Regions from separate parts of the Homo sapiens genome. Here region 1 is linked to region 2. A link means that fine-mapping ties the variant in region 2 to the expression of a gene that starts in the linked region. Tissue or cell type: whole blood. Region 2 holds a variant in brackets; the other region holds the start of a gene. All regions are shown on one strand. Distances are from middle to middle. Region 1 holds the start of TNFRSF25 (TNF receptor superfamily member 25). Region 2 overlaps NOL9 (nucleolar protein 9).

The links. PIP is the estimated chance that this variant, and not a neighbour inherited with it, causes the effect. A credible set is the group of variants that fine-mapping cannot tell apart.
Region 1: it holds the start of TNFRSF25, and the variant in region 2 is the best candidate, but not a certain one, in a credible set for the expression of TNFRSF25 in whole blood (INTERVAL, PIP 0.89).

What each region holds. Positions count from the first base shown.
Region 1 is chr1:6,462,952-6,468,461 of GRCh38, reverse strand. TNFRSF25 (TNF receptor superfamily member 25) reads left to right here and starts at 2,289. Exons shown (of 10, transcript NM_003790.3): 1 at 2,289-2,393; 2 at 2,902-3,022; 3 at 3,240-3,374; 4 at 3,743-3,910; 5 at 4,009-4,087; 6 at 5,335-5,390; 7 at 5,492-5,510. The coding sequence starts at 2,355. PLEKHG5 (pleckstrin homology and RhoGEF domain containing G5) reads left to right here. Exons shown (of 21, transcript NM_020631.6): 20 at 1-637; 21 at 890-1,340. The coding sequence ends at 899. RefSeq lists an enhancer at 1,520-2,468.
Region 2 is chr1:6,521,277-6,526,276 of GRCh38, reverse strand. NOL9 (nucleolar protein 9) reads left to right here. Exons shown (of 12, transcript NM_024654.5): 12 at 274-4,930. The coding sequence ends at 423. Among named protein-coding and RNA genes, the nearest start is that of NOL9, 31 kb to the left of the region's middle. The variant C/AC (reference allele first, on the strand shown) is at 2,968.

The sequences.
Region 1 (5,510 bases), 58 kb after region 2:
CTGCCTCATCTGCCACGCCCACCAGTGAGCTGCTGCCCCTGGGTCCGGTGGACGGCCGCTCCTGCTCCATGGACTCTGCCTACGGCACCCTCTCCCCAACCTCCTTACAAGACTTTGTGGCCCCAGGCCCAATGGCAGAGCTAGTGCCTCGGGCCCCAGAGTCCCCACGAGTTCCTTCCCCTCCACCCTCGCCCCGTCTCCGCCGCCGCACCCCTGTCCAGCTGTTGAGCTGCCCGCCCCACCTGCTCAAGTCTAAGTCCGAGGCCAGCCTCCTCCAGCTGCTGGCAGGGGCTGGCACCCATGGGACACCCTCTGCCCCCAGCCGCAGCCTGTCAGAGCTCTGCCTGGCTGTTCCAGCCCCAGGTATTAGGACTCAGGGCTCCCCTCAGGAAGCTGGGCCCAGCTGGGATTGCCGAGGGGCCCCTAGCCCTGGCAGCGGTCCTGGGCTAGTCGGCTGCCTGGCCGGGGAACCTGCAGGCTCCCACAGGAAGAGGTGTGGAGACCTGCCCTCGGGGGCCTCTCCCAGGGTCCAGCCTGAGCCCCCACCAGGGGTCTCTGCCCAGCACAGGAAGCTGACCCTGGCCCAGCTCTACCGAATCAGGACCACCCTGCTGCTTAACTCCACGCTCACTGCCTCGTGAGTGGCCTGGACTGGGGTAGGGCAGGTGGCTCAGGGCACTGGCATGGGGGCCCACTCATGCCTGGGAGCATCGCATTTGGGGAGGGTCATGGCGGAGGGAGCCTGAACCCTGCCCAGTGTCTGGGCGCAGGGGGCTGTGGTGGGCAGCAGTGAAGGGGCCTGAGGAGTGCCGTGGGGAAGAGAGGGTGACCAGAGCCACTCTGAATGGCGTCAGCCAAAGAAGGACTCTGTCCCCTCCCCACCCTGTAGGGAGGTCTGAGCAGAGGGAGGCCCCCAAGAGTGCCATTGACCAAGAGACAGCAGACAGCCTGCCTCCTGGGGCGTGCCGGCACCTGCTTCAGCTACTGCCTCCTGTATGCATGAGCCGGATGCTGGGCAGGATCCCTGCCTACGCCCGGGCCCGATTTGCGCTTTGCCGGACTGGATGGAGTGGAGGAGGCCCAGGCCACAGTACCACCCCACCTGCCCAGGCAGCCCCTCGTCACCTACTCCCCGAAGTTACCAGCTCAGCTCGAGTCTTCAGGGCTGGGCTCCTAGGCTGCCCATCCTACTTCTACCCTCACTGGCCTCCAGTGGGATTCACTCCTGCCCTGCCCCCACCTTCCCAGTCCCACAGGCCACCCCTGGCTTGGGCTGGGTTCTGTGAAGTTACGTATTTATTGAGCTTTTGGTTCTTTTATAAAGACTTGTCTAGACTCCACTGGGAAGAGTCCTTTGCTTTGGGGCCCAGTGACTCGGGGCACTTGAGTTCAGGGCGGCCTCCTTGTGTTCCTGTGCTCCTCCACTTGCCACGGATGGGCCACGGATGGAGCTTGCCATGGGAAGCACTGGGAAGTAATGGGGTGTGGGGTGCCACCAGACCAACACCCCCAGACTTCCCCACCTTCAGCCACCATCAGAGCCTCTCCCCAGGTGCCCCCCGGGGATTCAGGGCTGAATCTGCCCAGTTCCCACACTCAGGCCAGCCCTCTTGGGAAGGTGGGTCCTCCATGGGGGTCCCTTCAGGAACTTTTTTTTTTTTTTTAATACAGAGTCTCACTCTGTCACCTAGGTTGGAGTGCAGTGGTGTGATGTCGGCTCACTGCAACCTCTGCCTCCCGGGTTCAAACGATTCTCCTGCCCCAGCCACTCTAGTAGCTGGAACTGCAGGTGTGCACCACCACGCCGGGCTAGTTTTTGTATTTTAAGTAGAGACGGCATTTCACCATATTGGTCAGGCTGGTCTCGAACTCCTGACCCCAAGTGTTCCGCCCGCCTCTGCCTCCCATAGTGCTAGAATTACAGGCCTGAGCTACTGCGCTTGGCCCCTTGCGGTACTTTTGGCCCAACCTCCTCCATGGCTGGGGACGCGGAGGCCGAGAGAGAAGTCACTTGCCCTGGCTCTACCTTGAAGTGGTTCTCAGGGTTGGGGCGAGAGTCGGGGTGGGGACCGAGATGCAGCTCTATCCTGTGCCCCTGGTCGCAGCAGGCAGCCCAGCGCTTCGCGTGTTCTACTTGGCCTGTCCGCTGCCGCCTAATGAGCTCAGGTCTAGGCCGAGCAGAGGGGGCACCTGGTCGGACTCGGTTGGGCTCGGGCGGCCCCGCCTCCCCCCGCCCGCCAGGCGGGCCCTTCTCGACGGCGCGGGGCGGGCCCTGCGGGCGCGGGGCTGAAGGCGGAACCACGACGGGCAGAGAGCACGGAGCCGGGAAGCCCCTGGGCGCCCGTCGGAGGGCTATGGAGCAGCGGCCGCGGGGCTGCGCGGCGGTGGCGGCGGTGAGTTGAGACGCAGGAGGCTAGGGGCAGCTTTGAGCCCTGTCCCAAGAGCCTCGGTGAAGGAAGGGGCCCCGGGCGCGTCTCCACTCCAAGCCTCACTGGGGGCTGGGTTGGCCGCCCTTTCCGATCTCGTTAAAGGCTCCTCCAGGGCGTAGCCCTTCCACTGAGAGGAAACCCCTCCCAGGAGGGTCTGGGGGCCCCAGGCAGAGCATTATCAGTGTCCCTCCCCCAACAGAAAGCATGGGTGGGGGTGGGGGCGCTGCTGGATTCCTGCTCTGGTGGAGGGGAAACTTGTGAGGGGCTGGTAAGCGCCCCCTCCGAAGCCTGGTGTGTGCGCGGGGGGAAGGAAGTTAGTTTCCTCTCCACCCATGGGCACCCCTTCTGCCCGGGGCCTGGGAAGTGGGCTGCTCTGTGGGCAAATGCTGGGGCCTCTGAAATGGAGGAGACGCAGCAGGGAGAGGCCCCACGTGGGCAGCTGCGCTGAGAGTCAGCAGCACCTGTCCCCCAGGCGCTCCTCCTGGTGCTGCTGGGGGCCCGGGCCCAGGGCGGCACTCGTAGCCCCAGGTGTGACTGTGCCGGTGACTTCCACAAGAAGATTGGTCTGTTTTGTTGCAGAGGCTGCCCAGCGGGTAAGTGGCCACAGGGGTGGGAGAGGCATGGGGCAGGCAGGGCTGGAGAGGTGGCGGGCAGGCCCGGGAGGTAAGAGGAGGCTGGCAGGGGAGGTAGGGGTAGGCTGACAGAGAAGTAGGGAGCTGGAGAGAAAGAGGGAGGGAGGGCAGGGTGGGAAGCAGGTCGGGGGTTGCTGGGCAGCCCCTCTGCCTGCCTGACCCCTGCCTGGTTCCACAGGGCACTACCTGAAGGCCCCTTGCACGGAGCCCTGCGGCAACTCCACCTGCCTTGTGTGTCCCCAAGACACCTTCTTGGCCTGGGAGAACCACCATAATTCTGAATGTGCCCGCTGCCAGGCCTGTGATGAGCAGGGTGAGGGGCTTCTCAGTGCTTGGCAGGGAGTTCCTAAGGACAGGCCTTTCTGAAGGAAGTGGCTGGCTCGGGCCCAAACTTGGGGTGTGAGGGTCCTGCACCCACCCTTGCCAGAACCCTCCACCCTGATCCTCCTTCAGGGTGCCCTTGCCCCTTCTCTCTTCCTGGTGACCTTCCCATCTCTCCATGTGCCTTGGCCTCTGGTCGGCCTTAATCTCTGAGCTTCTCTCTTTTTTAGGGTAGCCCTGTACCTGTCTGTCTTTCGCCTATTTCTGTCTCCATTATCTTGGGATAATGCCTCTGCCTCTCCATGGGAGCCTTTGGCCCTGACTAACTCTCCACTCCCCATCTCCCTGCACCCCCACCAGCCTCCCAGGTGGCGCTGGAGAACTGTTCAGCAGTGGCCGACACCCGCTGTGGCTGTAAGCCAGGCTGGTTTGTGGAGTGCCAGGTCAGCCAATGTGTCAGCAGTTCACCCTTCTACTGCCAACCATGCCTAGACTGCGGGGCCCTGCACCGCCACACACGGCTACTCTGTGAGTACCCCCACCCAGGGCTCTCTACTCCCAGACCCCCTTCTCCCTGCCTGACCCACTCCTGTCCCATGGTGACGCATGCCTCTCCTGGATTGCAGGTTCCCGCAGAGATACTGACTGTGGGACCTGCCTGCCTGGCTTCTATGAACATGGCGATGGCTGCGTGTCCTGCCCCACGTAATTCCTAGCTGTCGTGGGATGGAGGGAAGGGCGGCTGGGAGCAGAGCAGGGGCCTGGGGTGGGGCAGGTGCTGCTGGTTCAGGAATAGGAAGAGGGGATAGGGAGGAGGGAGCCTTGGCCCTGTGATGGGTGGGCCCCACTTCAGGCAAACTTAGATGGCAAAAGAGCAATCTGGATCCGCCTTAGCCAGATACATAAGGGTATTTGCCTTCACTTTCAGCCAGCATTCCCCCCAGCGATCCTAGCCAGATATTACAGATGATTTGTCACTTACACAGAGAGTCACATTGATATAGCTTTAAAACTTGGGCTGAAGGAGGTTGAGGCTGCAGTGAGCTATGATCGTGCCACTGCACTTCAGCCTGGGCAACAGAGCGAGACCTATTAAATAAATAAATAAATATTAAATCTATTAAATATTAAATATTAAATCTATTAAATAAATAAATACAAAGGGCTGAGAGTCAGGACTGTGCTGCTAGTTCTCTAGGGGATCTTGGGCAAGTGCAGAGAATTCGCGTCTCTGATGTGTGGTGTCCCTTTCTCAACATGGGATGTTAGCAGCTAATTCACAGGCCTTTGATCAGAGGTAAGGGACTTTCTGTAGCTATTCAAGTCTTTTTTTTTTTTTTTTTTTTTTTTTTTTGAGATGGAGACTTGCTCTGTCACCCAGGCTGGAGTGCAGTGGCACGATCTTGGCTCACTACAACCTCTGCTGCCTGGGTTCAAGTGATTCTCCTGCCTCAGCCTCCCAAGTAGCTGGGACTACAGGAGCCCACCACCACCCCCGGCTAATTTTTTGTATTTTTAGTAGAGACGGGGTTTCACCGTGTTAGCCAAGATGGTCTTGATCACCTGACCTCGTGATCCACCCGCCTTGGCCTCCCAAAGTGCTGGGATTACAGGCATGAGCCACCGCGCCCGGCCTCCATTCAAGTCTTTATTGAATATCTGCTATGTTCTACACACTGTTCTAGGTGCTGGGGATGCAACAGGGGACAAAATAGGCAAAATCCCTGTCCTTTTGGGGTTGACATTCTAGTGACTCTTCATGTAGTCTAGAAGAAGCTCAGTGAATAGTGTCTGTGGTTGTTACCAGGGACACAATGACAGGAACATTCTTGGGTAGAGTGAGAGGCCTGGGGAGGGAAGGGTCTCTAGGATGGAGCAGATGCTGGGCAGTCTTAGGGAGCCCCTCCTGGCATGCACCCCCTCATCCCTCAGGCCACCCCCGTCCCTTGCAGGAGCACCCTGGGGAGCTGTCCAGAGCGCTGTGCCGCTGTCTGTGGCTGGAGGCAGAGTAGGTGGTGTGCTGGGAATGCGAGTGGGAGAACTGGGATGGACCGAGGGGAGGCGGGTGAGGAGGGGGGCAACCACCCAACACCCACCAGCTGCTTTCAGTGTTCTGGGTCCAGGTGCT
Region 2 (5,000 bases):
CCCTCATTTGAAAGGGACGCACACTGCACCCCCACTCTGCCTCACGCTGTTTGCTGTGTTGATGGAATGGGACAGAAGGGAGGCCTTGGCACGTTTGTTACCGAGCCAGTTGATTAAAGGGGGCTCTGAAGGAAGGGATCAAATGCCTTAAAAGTGAGAAGTCCCCACCCAGACCATCACCATGACACTGCCTTCTAGGTGTGAGAGAGCACTGTAAACCCCTCTGGGCTGGACCTGGAGTGTTTCCATGCATTCTCTGTGTTTCCGTTTCAGCGTGGGATCGAAGGGACAGTACCTTATGTCACAACGGATTACAATTTTAAACTTCCTGGAGCATCAGAGAAAATTGGAGCAAGAGAACCTGAGGAGGCACATAAAGAGAAACCATACCGAAGACCTAAGTTCTGTCGAAAAATGAAGTGATGCTCGCGTTTTTAATAAGGGAAGAAACTTTCCTACCAGAAAGCTTTGTCTCAAGCCTGACCACAAGAGACATGATGGAGTTTCATGGCCATGAATGGTGCCCTTATTAGCAACAGTGTTTTTTGTGTAATTCGTGAATGTCATATAGTAGTCTTAAGTTTCTCTTTTAAAGCTGCATGAGCTAGAATTTGTTCTAGTCTTCTGTGTGATACTCATACTTGCTGTCCAGAGGGAGTAAAACAGCAGAGAACAGTTTGTGTGCCATTAAAACAGAGATTCCTCAGAAAGTTCTTCAGGGACCTGGTTATTAGAATCAGGATAAAAATAAGGAAACTGGGGCCATTACAATGTACCGAGAAGGAAGGAAGAAGGCCGACCTGCAGGATCTCAAGCATAATGGATACAAGGGCTCGCCACGGGCCTTGCCTGAGCCATGTGCAGAGCTGGGGTCCAGCGGTCTGCTTCCTTGGAGCCAGTGTGGATGGTTACAGCCCATCCATTTGGTGCAGTTGTACTTGGTCTGTTATATTCAATCAAGGTTTAATAGATAGGGCTGGGCATGGTGGCTCATGCACACCTGTAATCCTAGCACTTTGGGAGGCTGAGGCGGGAGGATTGCTTGAGCCTCGGAGTTCCAGGCTGGAGTACACCAACTACTCCAGCCTGAGCGACAGAGTAAGACCTTATCTTTTAAAAAAGAAAAGAAAAATTTAAACGGGTTTGATAGATATAAATTTGGACCCAAGAGCCCTTCCTTTTTTTTAATCCTGAGGTTTTATGCTGAGGAAATTTCTTTCAAATCTGGAAAACCTCGGGGCCAGGCGCAGTGGCTCACGCCTGTAATTCCAGCACTTTGGGAGGCCAAGGCAGGCGGTTCACGAGGTCAGGAGATTGAGACCATCCTGGCTAACACAGTGAAACTCCGTCTCTACTAAAAATACAAAAAACTAGCTGGGCGTGGTGGTGGGCGCCTATAGTCCCAGCTACTCAGGAGGCTGAGGCAGGAGAATGGCATGAACCCAGGAGGCGGAGCTTGCAGTGAGCCGAGGTCACGCCACTGCACTCCAGCCTGGGCAACAAGAGCAAGACTCCATCTCAAAAAAAAAAAATAATAATCTGGAAAACCTCTTCTGGGGGCTCTTATAAAAGTAGATTTGTCCAAATTGACTTCTGATCTGAGGCCAGAGACAACCACAGGGCAGAGCTGGAGACTGGGCTGTTTTGAAGGAAGAAGGACTGGCAGACCAGCTCTTGGGAAAGCTCCATTATTGCCTGTGGGAGGCTGGACCTGAACTTGCACCTATGAACAACCCTGCCATTTAGAGCTTTTTCCTGGGGGTGCCGGCGGCTGGTGACCAGACTGCCATTCTCCACGTTCTCCCTGGTGCTTCCGACTCTGTCCTCTAGGTTGGAAGTGGTTTGTGTAAACGGGTGATGGGACCAGGTCACATCATTTCTGCATTTAAGACAGCAGGATACTTCCTGGGGCTGAGGTTCAAACTGGTATTGTGACCACCGCTTTGACAGAATTCCATCTTCCCAGCATGATCACATTGTAAGACTATTAGGATGTGTGGGTTTTAACACTTATATACACTTATACAACTGTTGGTTATCATTGTCTTTAGTATTTTACAGTGGCCCCTCAGCACCTCTTAGACCCAACAGCAAAGGACTTAAAATAAGCACAGGAAACCTTGCTATGGTGATTAGTTTTGATACCTTTGAGACAATTGAGTCTAGCTTCTTAGTTGCCCCTTATTTATGTTGAAATCTGGCTCATTCATATGATGTTTTACTGTGCTGGCCTTGTAAAGAATTTTAAGACAATCCATCACCATCAATGTTTTGCCTTTCTCCACTTTCGTGTATCTTACAGTTATACTCACTGGAGGTCATTTGCAGCAAGGCTCTGGAAGAATGAAACTGGTGCCCTGTAATTGCATTTGCATTCAATCTAGGTTTGCCTTCAGGCTTTAAATGCGGCCTGTATGAAGGTCAAGTCTTTTTCTTCAGTCCCTATCAGTAAAGAAAAATCGTTGCCTCTAGAGGGAGCTATCAGCTGTGGGTCAGGTGGCCGTACTGGGGCTAGAGTTGGCCCAGGAAGCTGTACAGGGTTTAGGGAAGGAGGTTCGGAGACAGGGAGCCAAGGCCTCTGTCAGGTCTAGCTTGTGCCGGTCAGACCTGCAGCAGCACCATTCTCCAGGATGACAATTCATCCCATTATTGATGGCAGTGGCCTTTTTATCCTTTTTTTTTTTTTTTTTTTTTTTTGAGATGGAGTTTCGCTCTTGTTGCCCAGGCTGGAGTGCAGTGGCGCAATCTGGGCTCACTGCCACCTCCGCCTCCCGGGTTCAAGTGATTCTCTTGCCTCAACCTCCCGAGTAGCTGGGATTACAGGCATGCGCCACCATGCCTGGCTGATTTTCTATTTTTAGTAGAGAAGGGGTTTCACCATGTTGGCCAGGCTGGTTTTGAACTCCTGTCCTCAGGTGATCCACCTGCCTTGGCCTCCCAAAGTGTTGGGATTACAGGCATGAGCCA[C/AC]CGCACCCGGCTGGTGGCAGTGGCTTTAAGGGCATTTAGAAGAAGGACAAGATTGGACTTTTTATCATTTCCACAGTCTGTTATGGGTCAGATTAGGTAGTAAGGAGTTCTCCATTGGAGCTATTCTTTTTTTTTTTTCTTTTTTTTTGAGACAGAGTCTCGCTCTGTCACCCAGGCTGGGGTGCAGTGGCACGACCTTGGCTCACTACAGCCTCTCCCCTCCCGGGTTCAAGTGATTCTTCTGCCCCAGCCTCCCAAGTAGCTGGGATTACAGGTGAGCGCCACCATGCCTGGCTAATTTTTATATTTTTAGTAGAGATAGGGTTTCACCGTATTGGCTAGGCTGGTCTCGATCTCCTGACCTTGTGATCCGCTTGCCTCGGCCTCCCAAAGTGCTGAAGCAATTTCTTTTTTTTTTTTTTTTTTGAGACAGAGTCTAGCTCTGTCGCCCAGGCTGGGGTGCAGTGGAGTGATCTCGGCTCACTGCAACTTCCGCCTCCCAGGTTTAAGCGATTCTCCTGCCTCAGCCTCCTGAGTAGCTGGGATTACAGGCGTATGCCACCACGCCCAGCTAATTTTTGTATTTTTAGTAGAGACAGGGTTTCACCATGTTGGTCAGGCTGGTCTCGAACTCCTGACCTCGTGATCCGCCCGCCTTGGCCTCCGAAAGTGCTGGGATTACAGGCGTGAGCCACTGCGCCTGGCCTGAAGCTATTCTTTACAAAAGCTCTTAGTTTTTGTTTGTTTGTTTGTTTTTTTCTTTTGCGACGGACTCTCTGTCGCCAAGGCTGGAGTGCAGTGGCCTGATCTCAGGTCACTGCAACCTCTGCCTCCTGGGTTCAAGCGATTCTCCTGCTTCAGCCTCCCAAGTAGCTGGGATTACAGGCGCCTGCCACCACACCCAGCTAATTTTTGTATTTTTAGTAGAGATGGCGTTTCACTTTATTGGTCAGGCTGGTCTCGAACTTCCAACCTCAGGGGATCCGCCTGCCTTGGCCTCCCAAGGTGTTGGGATTACAGGCATAAGACACTGTGCCTGGGCCTCTTAGTAATTTTTGTATGTAATTTTCAAAGTATCCGGGATTACAGGCGCCCGCCACTACACTAGCTAATTTTTTTTGTATTTTTAGTAGAGATGGGGTTTTACTATGTTGGCTAGGCTGGTCTCGAGCTCCTGACCTCGTGATCCGTCCACCTTGGCCTCCCAAAGTGCTGGGATTACAGGCGTGAGCCACCGCGCCCGGCCTAGGTCATTTGTTTTTGGGTTTGGATGGCAAGATCATGGATAAGACAGCAGGCTTTGATTATAGAGCTCTGAGTTCAAATCCTGGCTCTACCACTTGTCAGTGGTGTAACTTGGAGGAAGATGCTTAGCCTGAGCCTGTTTTATGTTTTGAAGATTGGGTAATTGTCCTTCCTTCAGTGTTCCTGGGTGAGGAGTAAGTGAAGTCATGTCTATAAGAGATGTAGCACAGTCTCCGGCATGTAGAAACGGTCAGTAACTCCTAGTGTGTAGCTAGCCTCTGATGAGATGGTAAACTCAGGAGGCTGGCACCACGGCTGTGCTACTCACGGTCATGCTGGAGGGATGCAGAAACTAAATGAATCCACAGCTACTTACTCATCTTGCCTCTGGCAGGTTCACCTTAAAATTGTTGCTACCAAGCTTCCTGTGGTCAAAGAGCCCTTGAGGAAGCAAGCTCCACGGCCACCATAGATAACCCATTCCTGAAAGTTTTTCATAAACCCCCACTTGTTGCTTTTAAAATTTTATAAGCAGCTTACACATGTAGAAAATGATCCTCCAGCCCACCACCACATAGTAATCACTGACACTGTGAGGTGTCTCAGCTGGGGTTCTGCTGTGTGTGTGTGTATTTTACAAAATATGTATGGTTTCTGTTCAGCTCTTTTCAGTTAACAGATGAACTTTTGTATCATTAAATATTTTTGAAAACATGAATTTAGTTGTGTAATTTTATGTAGATAGGTCATTTTATTCCAGGTAATCACTTAAATGCTTAGAAGAAACT